Linked DNA regions of Homo sapiens: region 1 is linked to region 2. Evidence: fine-mapped expression QTL. A gene starts in region 2. The other region holds a variant in brackets. All regions are shown on one strand. Distances are between the middles of the regions.

Region 1 (8,324 bases), 26 kb after region 2:
CGGCGGCAGGACCGGCGGGAGCGCATGCTGCGGGCGCTGCAGGCACAGGAGATCGAGTGCCGGCTGGTGGAGGCCGTGGACGGCAAGTGAGTCCGAGGCCTGGGGGTGGGGGGGCGGGTCCGCACGTGGATGTGGGTGTAGACCTCGCTGGTAGACGGCAAGTGATTCAGATGGGGGCGGGCGTGGTGTCCAAACAGATGTAGACCTCGTCAGTGGGCGTCCTGAAGGGGAAGTGAATGGGACCCTGGGGAAGGGGCAGATCCTCACAGTTGTAGACCATGGAAGGCAAGTGAGTCCTGACCCAGGGGAATGGGTAGGTTTGCATGCTGCCAGTGTAGACTGGTGGGGACTGTGGAGGGGTAAGTCAGTCAGACCCCAGGAGAGGAGGAGAGCAGGTTTGCCCGCGAGTGTATACCATGTGCAGGTGAGTGAGGCCCCATGTGCCCGGAAGGGGTGCCAGTGCTACAAGAGGTGGACCAGCTGCTCAACGCCGCAGGGGGTGGTGGAATGGCCGGGGATGGCAGAATGGCAGGCAGGGTGAACCTTCTTCGTGACCCTCTCCTCCTCCTCTCCAGAGCCATGAACACCAGCCAGGTGGAGGCGCTGGGGATCCAGATGCTGCCTGGCTACCGGGACCCCTACCACGGCCGGCCCCTCACCAAGGGTGAGCTGGGCTGCTTCCTGAGCCACTACAACATCTGGAAGGAGGTGTGTCCTGAGTGATGGGCGGGGCCAGAGTTATGACTCTAGATCTCATCGGAGATTTGGACGGGAAAGGGGTTGAAAGAGTTCCCCAAAGCCCCGGCTAGGCATCCAGCCTCAGCCATGGGACCCATGGCCTCTCTTTAGTGAATGATGCGCCACACCAGCTGTATCACCCCCAGGTGTACCTGCCATCCTTCCATTGCGCAAATGTGGAAACTGAGCCTGGGGGTAGGGGTGAGCCCTTTTGAGCAGCAGGTGGTGTCTGGGGCCTGGGACCTGTAAACAAATCCTCATTACTCCCAGCCTGGTCTCTGTGCTTGATGTTTAGTACTAGAAGTCATGGCCACAGAGCCACTTTAAACCAGCACCTGCCCAGTGCTGCTGGGGGCACTCACCAGCCCAGGCATCCTCATCCACCCTCAGAGGGAGAGGCTGTGATTGGAGGAGGGTGTCTGACTAGGCTTCGAACTTGGGCCATCAGGGCCGGGCATGGTGGCGCACACCTGTGGTCCCAACTATTTGGGAGGCTAAAGTGGGAGAGTGGCTTGAGCCCAGGAGTTAAGGCTGCAGTCAGCCAAGATCGTGCCACTGCACTGCAGACTGGACAGCAGAGCAAAACCGTGTCTCAGAAAAAAGAAAAATGGCTGGGCGTGGTGGCTCATGCCTGTAATCTCAGCACTTTGGGAGGCCGAGGCAGGCGGATCACCTTAGGTCAGGAGTTCAAGACCAGCCTGGCCAACATGGTGAAACCTAGACTCTACTAAAAATACAAAAATTATCTGGGTGTGGTGGTGGGCACCTGTAATCCCTCTACTTGGGAGACTGAGGCAGGAGAATCACTTGAACCCAGGAGGCAGAGGTTGCAGTGGGCTGAAATCATGCCATTGCACTCCAGCCTGGGCGACAAGAGTGACACTCCATCTCAAAAAAAGAAAAATAAAATCCGGGCGTAGTGGCACATGCCTGTAATCCCAGCTGCTCAGGAGGCTGAGGCAGAATTACTTGAACCTGGGAGGCGGAGGTTGCAGTTGAGATCGTTCCACTGCACTCCAGCCTGGGCGACAGGGCGAGACTCCGTCTCAAAAAAAAAAAAAAAGAAAAAGAAAAGAAAAACTTGTTATCGAATGTGAAGCCAAATGGGGGTGTGCGGCTGCAAGGCGGGAGGTGCATGAGGCGTGGGCATTTGAGGGGCTGGGAGGCCTTTCTCTTCTGAGATCCATTATGGACGGCAGAGGGCAGAGGTTTGGATGTCCAGATGTCCCTGGAGCTAGGAGAGGCAGGGAGATGCACTGGCTTCTCTACGGGTCTTTCAAACCTTCTCAAAGCAAAGCTCTGTGCTTTAGGGTCAGGCCTGGCCTTGGCCTCCCTGTGATGTGGCGGGGCTTCCTCCCTCAGGTGGTGGACCGGGGGCTGCAGAAATCGCTTGTGTTTGAGGATGACCTGCGTTTTGAGATCTTCTTCAAGAGACGTCTGATGAACCTCATGCGGGATGTGGAGCGGGAGGGCCTGGACTGGGACCTCATGTGAGTGGGGGTCTGAGGATGGGGTGAAGCTGGGGCCTGGGGCAAGGCCAGGACTTAGAGGTGGGGGTGGGGGCAGGGTGGAGCTGGGACCTGGGGATGGGTCATGGCTTAGAGGCGGGGCTTGAAGGTGGGGTGGAACTGGAGCCTAGGTACATGGCCAGGGCTTAGAGGTGGGGCTGGGAGGCGGAGTGGAGCTGAATCCTACGGGCGTGGCCACAGCGCTGCAGCTGAGCCTAGAGCCTGTATGTCTGGGTGTGGTCAGGGTGGCAGGCGTGGCCAACCCTTGGAAGCGTAGCAGGAGGGCTCACGTGGTTCCTGGGCCTGAAGGCACTGTCAGGGCTGTAGCCTATAGGGAAGGGCGTTGGAAGGATCACCCAGAACTCAAGGGACCTGGCCGGAAGCCTGCAGGCTTGGTCAAGGCTTAGAGACTTGACTGAGGCCTGTGGAGGTGGATGTGGCTAAAATTTGACCGGGCAGCCTGTGGGCGTGGCTGAAGAGCATGGGGGTGTGGTCAGAGCTGGAGGTGTGGCCGAAGAGTGTGGGGGCGTGGCCAGGGCGCCTGGTCTTAGACAAGCCCCTGGATGGGAGTGCCACCAACATGTTTCCAGCACTGGAGCCGTCCTTCTCTTCTGTAAGTGGGCTGGTTTGTCCTCTCCCTTCCTCCATCTCTTTTTTCCCTTCCATGTGCAGTGCCCTAATCTGCATTCTGGGAACACTGCCCCATGTGAATAGTAACTGCACCCCTCCATTCCTGACTGCCCCCCCATCAGGGCACCTCGCCCACCTCCACCCCCACTGTCCTCTGAACTCAGAGCAGCTTCAGCCTCAGAGAACGTCTGCGTGATCCTGCTCTCCCCAGCTCCAGATCCTCCATGGCTCCCTCACGCCCTTTGGAAAAACTCACTCTTCTCCCCCATGACCGCCAGACCCCTGGGCTCCTGCATTCACTCCATCCAGTCACAGAGCTCTGCAAACATGCTGAGCCTGCTCCCATCCCAGGACCTGACGGGGTAACTAGATCCCTGGCTTTCTGGGCAAGCTCCCTCCGGAGGGCGGGAGGAGAGTGACAGGCCCGATCTTGCACCCCAGCTATGTGGGCCGGAAGCGGATGCAGGTGGAGCACCCCGAGAAGGCTGTGCCTCGCGTGAGGAACCTGGTGGAGGCCGACTATTCCTACTGGACCCTGGCCTACGTGATCTCCCTGCAAGGCGCCCGCAAACTGCTGGCTGCTGAGCCGCTCTCCAAGATGCTGCCTGTGGACGAGTTCCTGCCCGTCATGTTCGACAAACACCCAGTGTGAGAGGGGCAGGCGGCTGCTGGGCTGGGGTTTCA[C/T]GGTGGGTCTGTCCTGGGAGAATGGGGATGTGAGACTCACGGCCTCCGAGAAGATGTCTCTTCTTTTGCCTACTTCTCCCTCCGTTTGCCCCCTCGCAGATCTGTCTCCATTTGTATCCCCTGCACACTTACGTTTTAATCTGTCCCCGCTGACTTCTTCACCCCCAATTTTTCCTCCAGCTGTCCCGTCCCCTGAAGCCATTGCTGCCCCTCACTCCCCTCCTCCTCCCCCCAGGTCCGAGTACAAGGCCCACTTCTCCCTCCGCAACCTGCATGCCTTCTCTGTGGAGCCGCTGCTCATCTACCCCACACACTACACAGGAGACGATGGCTATGTGAGTGACACCGAGACCTCAGTCGTATGGAACAATGAGCACGTCAAGACCGACTGGGACCGCGCCAAGTCCCAGAAGATGCGGGAGCAGCAGGCACTGAGCCGTGAGGCCAAGAACTCGGACGTGCTCCAGTCCCCACTGGACAGTGCTGCCCGGGATGAACTCTGAGGGGTAGCAGCCAGAAAGCCAAAGCAGCCATCGGTGGCCCAGGCTCCACGTGCTTACTGAGGACATCAGGTCCACCTCTGGACCCCTTGGCAGGCCACAGAGGGCTCTCGTGTGGGGTGGTGTCCAGCCAGCTCTTGCTAAGCAATCACGTGCACACAGGCAGCATTAATGGAGTGCCTACTGCATGCCAGCAACAGGGCTTGGCCCTGGGGAATTGGGAGGAACCAAGCCCTCTTCATCTGTTCATGTGCCCAGCATTTATTAAGCACCTGCTGTATGCAAGGTTCCCATGTTACGGCAGTGAATGAGGCATAATTGTTCCCTCCATCAGCGATTGATTCAGTCATCAAGCAGTTACTGATCAGATTAAGAATCAGGCACTAGTGATACACATTCATTTTTAAAATTCATTCAAGGATTTATTGAGTGCCTACTGTGTGTTGGGTGCCATTCCAGGCTCTGGGATTTTTTTTTTTTTTTTTTTAAGAGTAGAGTCTGTCTCTGTCACCCAGGCTGGAGTGCAGTGGTGTGACGGCTCACTGCAGCCTGCGCCTCCCAGCGTCCAGCAATTCTTGTTTCTCGGCCTCCCAAGTAGCTGGGACTATAGGTGCGTGCCATCACATCTGGCTAGTTTTTGTATTTTTAGTAGAGACGGGGTTTCACCATGTTGGCCAGGCTGGTCTCGAACTCCTGACCTCAAGTGATCTGCCCGCCTTGGCCACCCAAAGTGCTAGGGTTACAGGCATGAGCCACTGTGCCCAGCCCAGGCTCTGGGAATATTGAGATAAATAAGATGCTTCTATCCATTTATTCAAGCACATATTGGTCACCTACTGTGTGCCTGGCACTCATGTCACAAAGATAAGTTCCTGATTCGGTACACTTACTGAGCACCTGCTGTGTGCAGGGAGCTGAGCTATGGGATGGGAATGGGAGTAAACAAGGTACTTTTTACTTTTTTCTTTTTTTCCTCACTGCTAGACGGTGTGGGAACTTCTCACTCATTGGCTTCTTTCCCACACACCTGAAGAGCACTGACTGTGTGCCGGGCACTAGTGATACAAAAGAGTGTGACAGTTGTTCAGTCTGCATTTTCGATCATGGGCTACATGCCGAGTGCTGGGGCACAGAGATGAACAAGATCGGTTCCTTCACTTCTTCATGCCACAAGTGTTTATTGAGCACCTGTGTGCCAGGCCTCACAGACTCCCAGTTGGGTTGAAGAATGGTTGACTGAGTTTGATTCTTCCTGTACCCTCGGTCGTCTGAGCTGTGTGCAGACAACATCCCCCCACCACCCAAGAGGGAGGGTAGCTCTTCCGCCACCAGGGGCAAGCACAGGTCCTGGTGGCCCCACGCCACATGTTAGCCCCCCTGGAGGGGGCGCCAGTTGGAGACGGGGGCTGGGTGTCCCTGGCCCACTCCCGGTCCCCTGTGCTTTACCTCCTTGCCCTTGTGTCTCAGGTGTGGTCCCTGCCTGCTTGATGAAGTTGCTCTGTTCAAGCCTTTGGTGGGATCATGTGTTTGGGGGCTTTTAGGGGACCCAGCTGCACTGGGGCACTGCCCGTGGCCTGGGTAGGACATTTCCCAGCAAGGGCTGGAGGAGTTGCCGTGCCTTCAGCCTGAATCGAATGTCAGAACCAGCCAGCGGTGCTTCACCCTCTTGGGGATAACTTGCTTAGTTTTTTAATAAATGTTCCTGGTTGGTTTTCACAGCAGTTTGTGGGATTTTGCTCGGCACCAAAACACTGCCCACGTTCCCCACCCCTGGATGGCCGACAAGATTTGGGAGGAAACCAGGGCAGGTGCAGTAGGGAAGCTGCCCAGTGGGGCCTGGCATGGTGGCTCATGCCTGTAATCCCGGTGCTTTGGGAGGCTAAGGTGGGCGGATCACTTGAGGTCAGGAATTCAAGACCAGCCTGGCCAACATGGTGAAACCCCCTCTCTATTAAAAGTACAAAAATTAGCCTAGTGTAGTGGGGCGGGGTGGCGGGGGGGGGGTACCTGTAATCCTCGCTACTTGGGAGGCTGAGGCAGGAGAATCGCTTGAACCTGGGAGGTGGAGGTTGCAGTGACCCAAGATTGAGCCACTGCCCTCCAGCCTGGGCGGCAGAGCAAGACACAATCAAACCAAAAAAAAAAAAAAAAAGCTGGCCAGTGGAGCTACTGTGGGGTGAGGGTGTGGTAAGAGCCCTGTGTCCCCTCATGCCATAAAACTTCCCCCAAACAGGCGGGGGACCGACAGCTCTGTCTTGAGTCAACTTCAGGATCCTTCCACATGACTTCGAATAAAGAGGGGCTGTCGTGCTTTGAGTCCCCCTAAAACAGACCTCAACATGAGGATTAGGGCTGGGCATGGTGGTTCACGCCTGTAATCCCAGCACTTTGGGAGGCCAAGGTGGGTGGATCACCTGAGGTCAGGAGTTCGAGACCAGCCTGATCAATAAGATGAAATCCCGTCTCTACTAAAAATGCAAAAAGCAGCCAGGCATGGTGGTGTGTGACAGTAGTCCCAGCTACTTGGGAGGCTGAGGCAGGAGAATCGCTTGAACGCAGGAGGTGGAGGTTGCAGTGAGCTGAAATCTTGCCACTGCACTCCAGCCTGGGCAACAGAATGAGACTCCATCTCAAAAAAAAAAAAGGATTAGGCTGGGTGAGGTGGCTCACTCCTATAATCCCAATGCTTTGGGAGGTTGAGGAGGTGAGAGGATTGCTTGAGGTCAGGAGCTCAAGACCAGCTTGGGCAACAGAGTGAGACCCTCGTCTCTACAAAAAAAATTGAGAAATTAGTTGGGCATGGTAGGGCACACCTGTAATCTGGCTACTCAGGAGGCTGAAGCAGGAGTATCTCTTGAGTCTAGGAGGTTGAGGCTGCAGTGAACCATGATCACACCACTGCACTCCAGCCTGGGCAACAGAGCAAGACCCTGTTTCTATAAAACAAAACCAGAAAACTTCCCTGAAATAGCCCAGGGACAGGTGGCCAACTTCATTCTATCTTGGATCAACCACAGGATCGTCGCAGATGACTTCAAATGAGGAGGGGCTGTCATGGTTTGGGTCCCCTGAAACAGACTCCAAGATGAGGATTGAAGGGCACTTACGTTATCAGTGACCCCAGGAACTTGCTGTGGAGCAGTAGGGAAGTGAGACAAGAAGGGAAAGAGTGGTCCCACCCCAGGGAGAGGGGGCTGGACATTACAACATGCCCAGTTGCATTTGGATTTTCTGGGTCAAATGCTTACAAATCCTCTGGATTATTACACCTTTAGGGTGTGCAAGAATATACCCGAGACTTTTATAAACTAACACAGGGGCCAGGCGCGGTGGCTCACACCTGTAATCCCAGCACTTTGGGAGGCCGAGGCTGGTGGATCATGAGGTCAGGAGTTCGAGACCAGCCTGGCCAATATGGTGAAACCCCGTCTCTACTAAAAATACAGAAAAATTAGCTGGGCATGGTGGTGAGCGCCTGTAGTCCCAGCTACTTGGAGGCTGAGGCAGAAGAATCACTTGAACCTGGGAGGCGGAGGTTGTAGTGAGCCGAGATCACGCCACTGCACTCCAGCCTGGGCGACAGAGCAACACTCTTGTCTCAAAAAACAAAAAACAAACAACAACAAAAAACCCTAACACTGATGGTGTTCAATCAGTGTGGAAAAAATCAGAACTTACAGCTAAGCAAATTGACAAAGCAAAAATTAAATCACACCTTTTCAGACACAACTAACATTTTCAAAAACTTTCCAGCCTTCCTTATTTGCATGGTGTAAATATATATGCATTTTTTAAAAAAGGAGGACCATGTTACCTAAGCTACTGCAACTTGCCGTTTTATTTTTCGTGGAATGCACTTTTATTTTCTAAGCATGGGATCAAACTGTACCTATTTTTTAAAAAACAACTTTTATTTTTAAATTTAACAACTATTGTGGACCTCCTTTCCAAAATAGGGTTAACATCTACGAGCTCTTTTTGGATTGTTATGGAAAATATTCCCTGCTGTTTCCTGCAGTGGATAGCATTATACAATACATCTTTCCTACTGGATTTTTTGTTTTTTTGTGTTTTTTTGTTTGTTTTGTTTTGCTTTTTGAGACGGAGTCACACTCTGTCACCCAGGCTGGAGAGCAGTGATACGATCTTGACTCACTGCAACCTCCGCCTCCTGGGTTCAAGCAATTCTCCTGCCTCAGCCTCCTGAGTAATAGATTACAGGCGCCCGCACCACACCTGGAGAATTTTTGTATTTTTAGTAGAG
Region 2 (8,324 bases):
TATACATTTCTTTTTCTTTTTATTTATTTATTTATTTATTTTTTGAGATGGAGTGTCGCTCTGTCACCAGGCTGGAGTGCAGTGGCAGCATCTTGGCTCACTGTAACCTCCACCTTGCGGGTTCAAGCAATTCTCCTGCCTCAGCCTCCCCAGTAGCTGGGATTACAGGCGTCCACCACCACGCCCGGCTACTTTTGTATTTTTAGTAGACATGGGGTTTCACCATGTCGGCCAGGCTGATTTTGAACTCCTGACCTCAGGTGATCCACCTGCCTCGGCCTCCCAAAGTGCTGGGATTACAAGCGTGAGCCACTGCACCCGGCCTACATTTCTTTTTTTTTATTTTTATTTTTTGAGATGGAGTTTCGCTCTTGTCACCCGGGCTGGAGTGCAATGGCGCGATCTCGGCTAACTGCAACCTCTGCCTCTCGGGTTCAAGCGATTCTCATGCCTCAGCCTCCCGAGTAGCTGGGATTACAGGCGCCCACCACCATGCCCAGCTAATTTTTGTATTTTTAGTAAAGATGAGGTTTCACCATGTTGGCCAAGCTGGTCTTGAACTCCTGATCCTTGGTCTCCCAGAGTGCTGGGATTACAGGCATGAGCCATTGCGCCCAGCCAACATCTCTATTAACTCTGATTTTTTAAGCACTTATTACATGCCAGGCATCTGACACATCTGATTTTTGACGTCCGTATATTTTCCATTATACAGATGAGGAAACTGAGGCTGAGCGGGAAGGAGGGGCTTGTCCCAGGCAGCCAGACTCTGGTGCCCAGATCCAGCCACTCTGCCCACCGCCTTCTCCAGGAACATTCCGGAGCTGAATCTTCACCCACATCTATCTTGTTTCTATTGGATAAATGTCTACAAGTGGAATTTCTGGGCCAAAACGGATGTGCCATCTTTAGGCTTTTGTAACCCCTGCAACTTCAGAAAACTGTACCATTTTATACTCCAAGCAGCAGCATTTATTTGTGTATTTTCCCCAAGGCTTTCTTTATTTTAATTTTTTTTTTTTTTTTGAGACTGAGTCTTGCTCTGTCACCCGGGCTGGAGTGCAGTGGCAGGATCTCGGCTCACTGCAACCTCCGCCTCCCGGGTTCAAGCGATTCTCCTGCCTCAGCCTCCCGAGTAGCTGAGATTTCAGGCACCCGCCACCATGCCTGGTTAATTTTTGTGTTTTTAGTAGAGATGGGGTTTCACCATGTTGGCCAGGCTGGTCTCGAACTCCTGTCCTTAAGTGATCTGCCCCCCTCAGCCTCCCAAAGTGCTGGGATTACAGGTGTGAGCCACCACACGTGGCCTAATTTTTTTTTTTTAAATAATAGAGACAAGGTCTCGCTATGCTGCCCAGGCTGATCTCAAACTCCTGGACTCAAGCAATCCTCCTGCCTTGGCCTCCCAAAGTGCTAGGATTATAGGAGTGATCCACTATGTCCAGCCTCCAAATCCTTTCTAAACACTAGGACTTTTCATGAAAAGAAAAAAGCTATGCCAGTTAGACACACACAGAAATCTCATGATTTTATTTTGAATTTCTTTGACTAAATTGAACTTACAAATAAGTTTATTATGGCCAGGCGTGGCAGTGCACACCTGTAATCCCAGCACTTTGGGAGGCTGAGGCGGGCAGATCACTTGAGCTCAGGAGTTCAAGACCAGCCTGGCGAACATAGTGAGACCTCATCTCTACAAAAAATACAAAATTAGCGGCCGGGAGTGGTGGCTCACGCCTGTCATCCCAGCACTTTGGGAGGCTGAGACAGGTGGATTGCTTGAGCCAAGGAGTTTTGAGGCCAGCTTGGGCAATGTGGTGAAACCTGTCTCTACTAAAAAATAAAATAAATAAATAAATAAATAAATAAATAAATAAATAAATAAAATTTAAAAGAAGCTGGGCTGAGATGGGAGATTTACCTGAGCCTGGGAACTCAAGGCTGCAGTGAGTGGTGATTGCACCACTGCACTCCAGCCTGGGTGATGGGAGTGAGACCCTGTCTCAAAAAACAAAATCCAAATATGTTGATTAGCCATTTACATGTTTGTAGTTTTTTTTTTTTTAATTTCAGTGAATTGCCTGTTCATAGCTTTTTTCTACTTTTCAGGAGTGTTTGCATTTTTCTTATTGATATCTAATAACTCTTTATATCTGAAGGATATGAACGCTTTGTGATACAGGTTACAGATTTTGGGGTTTTTTTCTCCGCTTGCTGTGAGCCTTTTGGGTTTGTTTCCTAGCTCCAAATCTTAACTTGGTGTCAAGTTTCCTGGCTGGGAGACAAGCTTTTACCGACTTCCTCTGCTTGCCAGCAAAGTCATCTGCTAACTGGATATTGGCAGCTTCTCTGCTGTCTTGCAGCTGCTTCCGGAGTGGGTTCCACAGGGATTCCCGTGTGTTCTTGGTTCAGCTTGCAGAGGGACTTTCACACTCCCTGGAGACCGTTTCCTCCCATTCTGTCTGGAGTTTTCGGCCTACCCCAAGACAATGAGATATTCCTGACCTTTCCACCTATTTCCCTCCAACCCCACCTTCCGAAATACATTTGCTCAATACATTTGCACTTCATAGGCTTCTTTAGCTGTCTTCCTTTTACCCCGGACGGGATGTAGATGTTAATTCTGGAACAATTGCAGCTACAAGAATTTGTCATCCTGCCCCTTTTGAGAAAAACATTGTTTGCCCTTGGGTCTAAATCCTTCCAGATGGGATGGGATGTATCTTGTCACCTCCTTTTTCTTACTTAATATGAAAAGACCTTTCCTCATCAAGTCCACAGAGTGTAAATTTGTTTTTACCTTTTTTTTTTTTTTTTTGAGACGGTGTCTCACTCTGTCACCCAGGCTGGAATGCAGTGGTGCGATTTTGGCTCACTGCAACCTCCACCTCCTGGGTTCAAGTGATTCTCCTGCCTCGGCCTCCGTAGTAGCTGGGATTACAGGCGAAGCGCCACCATGACCGGCTAATTTTTTGTGTTTTTAGAAGAGATGGGGGCTTCACCATATTGACCAAGCTGGTCTCGAACTCCTGACCTCAAGTGATCCGCCTGCCTCAGCCTCCCAAAATGCTGGGATTACAGGCGTGAGCCACTGCACCTGGCCTGTATCATTCTTAAAAATTAAGTTTTAGCGGGGCATGATGGCTCACTGGTAATCCCAGCAGTTTGGGAGGCTGAAGGGGGAGGATTACTTGAGACCAGGAGTTTGAGAACAGCCGGGGCAACATAGCGAGACTCCATCTCTACAAAAAATTTAAAAATTAGCTGGGCGTGGTTGAGTGCACTTGTAGTCCCAGCTACTTGGGAGGCTGAGGCAGGAGGATCAGTTGAGCCCAGGAGGTTGAGGCTGCAGTGAGCCATGATCATGTGATCATGCCACTGCACTCTAGCCTGAGCCACAGAGTAAGACCCTCTCTGTGAAAATAATAATAAGCTGGGCGCGGTGGCTCACGCCTGTAATCCCAGCACTTTGGGAGGCTGAGGTGGGCGGATCAGGAGGTCAGGAGTTCGAGACCAGCCTGGCCAATATGGTGAAACCCCATCTCTACTATAAACAAAAATTAGCCGGGCGTGGTGGCGCGTGCCTGTAGTCCCAGCTACTCAGGAGGCTGAAGCAGGAGAATCGCTTGAACCCGGGAGGCGGAGGTTGCAGTGAGCCGAGATCGCGCCACTGTACTCTAGCCGGGGCAATGGAGTGAGACGCTGTCTCAAAAAAAAAAAAAAAGAAAATAATAATAATAATAATAATAATGTTCAGATGTATTTTTTAAAGTTTTTATTGTTTTTAAAAATAGAGGCACGGTCTTGCTATGTTGCACCACTGCACTCCAGCCCGGGCAACAAAGCCAGACTCCGTCTCAAAAAAAAAAAAAAAAAAGTGTGATACTAAGTCAATCAATTTGAAAATGCGGCTCTAGAGTATTGGAAAACAATCCCTTGACAGCGTTTCCATGAAAACATGGCCCTTGTCTCTGGAAGAGCTTGTGCCCAGAACGGTCCATTATCATGCCCTGGCTCTATTTTCACGCCAACCCTATAGGGTCTCTATGATCTCATTTTATAGATGGACAGACTGAGGCTCACATATAGCAAGCCCAAGGCGGGGACTGAATGTGACGCCAGGTCTGTGGACGTCATGACCTTTATTCTCCACAACCCTCAATGACATCCCTGTGAGATCCAAAACCAGGATGGCAAAACCCACGTTGCAGCAGAGGAAACTGAGGCTAAGGTCTCTTGGGTCCCAAACCAGGTCCTAAGTAGCCAAGTCCGCCTGGTGGCACAGCCCGGGTTTTATACATGGGGAAATTGGGCGGCGCATCTGGCGGAGGTCTCAGTGGTAGGAGGCGCCTGGAGGAAGCGCGGGTTCCTAACCCTAACGCTACCCCTAACATCCCTTCCACGCGCTCCGAGCGCTATGTGCCTTTAAGATCGGTGCGGGGGCGGGGCGTCCTGGGTAGGGCTGCAGGTGACGTCACTCCGGGCCTTGGGACTCGGAGAGCGTCTGGAGGCGGGGCCTGGACTTCACGCCCGGCGCGCTCCTCCCCTTTAAGGCGCGCGGCCGGGCGGGGCCCCTATGACCCCTTTAAGGCGCGGCCAGAGTCCTCCCGCAGAAAAACGACTTAAAGGAGACGCGTGGCGCGATGGCGGCGGCCCCACGCGCGGGCCGGCGGCGCGGGCAGCCGCTCCTGGCGCTGCTGCTTCTGCTGCTGGCGCCACTGCCGCCGGGGGCCCCGCCGGGCGCCGACGCCTACTTCCCCGAGGAGCGCTGGAGCCCGGAGTCGCCCCTGCAGGCGCCGCGCGTGCTCATCGCGCTGTTGGCGCGAAACGCGGCCCACGCGTTGCCCACCACGCTGGGCGCACTCGAGCGGCTGCGGCACCCGCGGGAGCGCACGGCGCTATGGTGAGTCGAGCCCGCTGTCCCCATCAGGCGGGTCACGCGAGCCCCTGCTTGCTGTCCCCATAGGGGTGGGTCCACGCGAGCCCCTGCCCGCTGTCCTCTTCTGGGCGGGTCCGCGCGTGCTTCCTGCTCGCTACCCCCATCGGGACGGTTCTACGCATGCCCCTGCCCGCTGCCCCCATCGGGACGGGTCCACGCGTGCCCCCTGCCTGCTGTCCTCCCATGGGGCCAGACACAGCCCTCCCCACAACACAAGCGGGACCGAGTTCCTCCTGCTGGCTCCTTTGGGGTGGGCTGGGCACCGCTTCTGCCTGCTGGACCCTACTAGGGCAGCTCCGGCCTCACTAACTGGGGCTCTAACTCCCTCTGGGGCACGTACACCTCCAAAGGACGGAGCCCAGAGCCCCCACTGGGGCGTTGCCAGAGGCCACATCTAACAGCAAGCCTTTCTGTGCCGGCTGCTGCCCTTAAGCTTGAACTCAGCCTGGCTCCAGGCCCCAGTCAAACCCCTGCCCTCAGACCGGCGTGGGTGGAGTCCAGGACCAGATGGCCCAGGAGGAAGTGGATGCTTTCTTGGTAGGGAATGGGGCAGAGCTCTGAAGAAACCTTTGACTGGTGACTTCTCACTCCCTGCCTCAGTTTTCTCAAATGGAAAATGGGTCCGGGTGCAGTGGCTCACGCAGTAATCCTAGCAATTTGGGAGGCCAAGGTAAGCGGGTCACTTGAGCTCAGGAGTTCGACACCAGCCTTGCCAACATGGCAAAACCCCGTCTCTAGAAAAAAAATACAAAAATTAGCCAGGTGCGGTGGTGTGTGCCTGTAGTCCCAGCTATTCAGGAGGCTGACGCAGGAGAATCGCTTGAGCCCAGGAGTTCGAGGCTGCAGTGACCTATGATTGCACCACTGCACTCCAGCCTGGGCTACAGAGTAAGACCTGCCTCTAAAAAAAGAAAAAGAAAAGAAAATGAGCGTATTAATATAATTCTCTTTTTGGGTTTGTCTCTGAAGATTATCCAGTTAATGGATGTGGAGCCCTTGGGTCTGGCATGGGCTTGGCTCTCAGTGATTTTATTATCATGATTACTGTCATTGCTGGTGTTATTGTCAACTTAATTTATTGGGCAGAATTAGCTTTTGGCACTACGGTCAAACTAAACTCCCAAATGTCGCTTTTCCTTCCACCTGATTTCTCAGTCTGGATAATCCAAATACACAATTGGTACTTAACAAATGTTTGTTGAATGAATAATTGACTGCAGCCCACTGAAGTGGTGTGGCTCACAGGAGAAGATGAAGGCAGGGTAAGGGATTTATGAGATATACTTTGAGATATACTTTTTTTTTTCTCTCAGACGGAATCTTGCTCTGTCGCCCAGGCTGGAGTACAGTGACACGATCTCAGCTCATTGCAACCTCCGCCTCCGGGTTCAAGTGATTCTCCTGCCTCAGCCTCCCGAGTAGCTTGGGATTACAGGTGCGCACCACCATGCCTGGCTAATTTTTGTATTTTTAATAGAGTCAGGGTTTCACCATTGTGGCCAGGCTTGTGTTGATCTCCTGACCTCATGATCTGCCTGCCTCGGCCTCCCTAAGTGCTGGGATTACAGGCATGAGCCACAGCGCCCTGCTGAGATATACTTTTTTTTTTGATACAGGGTTTTACATCTGTCGCCCAGGCGGGAGTGCAGTGGTGCAATCCTAGCTCACTGCAACTTCCCCCTCCTGGGCTCAAGTGATTCTCCTGCCTCAGCTTCTTGAGTAACTGGGACTACAGGCGTATGCCACTGCGCCCAGCTAATTTTTGTATTTTTTCTAGAGATGGGGTTTTGCCCTATTGGCCAGGCTGGTCTCGAACTCCCGAGCTCAAGTGACCTGCCCACCTCGGCCTCCCAACATATTGGGATTACAGGCGTGAGCCATTGCACCCAGCTGGTTTCTGATATATACATTTCATTTTTTAATATTTTTTATTTATTTATTTTTTGAGACTGAGTCTCGCTCTCGTTGCTGAGGCTGGAGTGCAGTGGCACGATCTCGGCTCACTGCAACCTCCTCCTCCCAGGTTCAAGCGATTCTCCTGCCTCGGCCTCCTGAGTAGCTGGGATTACAGGTGCCCGCCACCACACCCAGCTAATTTTTTGTGTTTTTAGTAGAGATGGGATTTCACCATGTTGGCCAGGCTAGGCTCAAACTCCTGGCCTCAAGTGATTCACCCGCCTCGGCCTCCCAAAGTGCTGGAATTACAAGCGTGAGCCACCATGCCCGGCCTAATTTTTGTATTTTTAGTAGAGATGGGGTTTCGCCATGTTGGCCAGGCTGGTCTCAAACTCCTGACCTCAGGTGATACACCCGCCTCGGCCTCTCAAAGTGCTGGGATGACAGGCGTGAGCCACCGTGCCTGGCCTGATCTATACATTACAAAAATTGCCGTGTGCGGTGGCTCATTCCTGTCATCCCAGCACTTTGGGAGGCTGAGGCAGGTGGATCACCTGAGGTCAGGAGTTCGAGAGCAGCCTGGCCAACATGGCGAAACCCCATCTCTACTAAAAATGCAAAAATTAGCTGGGCATGGTGGTGGGCACCTGTAATCCCAGCTACTCGGGAGGCTGAGGCAGGAGAATTGCTTGGACCTGGTAGGCGGAGATTGCAGTGAACCAAGATTGTGCCACTGCACTCTAGCCTGGGTGACAGAGCAAGACTCTGTCTCAAAAGAAAAAAAAAATTAAGTGACACATATTTGTTAGTGAATGTGGTTTGCAAGATCTTAGATGCTCAGTAATAAAACAGCCAATCACTAATGGGTCTTTCCAAAATCAGCTTGTTTAATCCTTCCACTTCCCAGTAAACTGGGTCCTGTTCCCACCCCCATGTTACAGATGAGGAAACTGACATGGAAAGGGAGAAATGGGCCGGGCGCGGTGGCTCACGCTTGTTAAGTCCAGCACTTTGGGAGGCCAAGGTGGGCGGATCACGAGGTCAGGAGATCGAGACCAGCCTGGCCAACATGGTGAAACCCCGTCTCTACTAAAAATACAAAAAAATTAGCCGGGTGTGGTGGCGGGCGCCTGTAGTCCCAGCTACTTGGGAGGCTGAGACAGGAGAAGGCGTGAACCCGGGAGGCGGAGCTTGCAGTGAGCCGAGATCGCGCCACTGCACTCCAGCCTGGGCAACAGAGCGAGACTCTGTCTCAAAAAAAAACAAAGGAAAGGGAGAAGTGTCCTGTCCAGGGATACATAGCTGGTGGGAGGCCAGTTGGGGATGGTGGTCCTTGACTTGCCTCACTGCTGCCTGGTCCTGCCTCAGTCTCCCCAAGTACGCTGCCTGTCCCCTCTCCCTGCAGGGTGGCTACGGACCACAACATGGATAACACGTCAACTGTGCTGCGGGAGTGGCTGGTGGCCGTGAAGAGTTTGTACCATTCCGT

Evidence for each region. PIP is the estimated chance that this variant, and not a neighbour inherited with it, causes the effect.
Region 1: its variant is fine-mapped to the expression of COLGALT1 in whole blood (TOPMed, PIP above 0.99).

What each region holds. Positions count from the first base shown.
Region 1 is chr19:17,577,382-17,585,705 of GRCh38, forward strand. COLGALT1 (collagen beta(1-O)galactosyltransferase 1) reads left to right here. Exons shown (of 12, transcript NM_024656.4): 8 at 1-86; 9 at 576-708; 10 at 2,101-2,228; 11 at 3,318-3,524; 12 at 3,796-5,776. The coding sequence ends at 4,063. Among named protein-coding and RNA genes, the nearest start is that of COLGALT1, 26 kb to the left of the region's middle. RefSeq lists enhancers at 2,515-2,724, 2,559-2,853. The variant C/T (reference allele first, on the strand shown) is at 3,561.
Region 2 is chr19:17,551,071-17,559,394 of GRCh38, forward strand. It overlaps COLGALT1 (collagen beta(1-O)galactosyltransferase 1), which reads left to right and starts at 4,579. Exons shown (of 12, transcript NM_024656.4): 1 at 4,579-4,903; 2 at 8,241-8,324. The coding sequence starts at 4,644. NIBAN3 (niban apoptosis regulator 3) reads left to right here. Exons shown (of 15, transcript NM_001321827.2): 15 at 716-2,570. The coding sequence ends at 828. RefSeq lists a silencer at 4,657-4,746.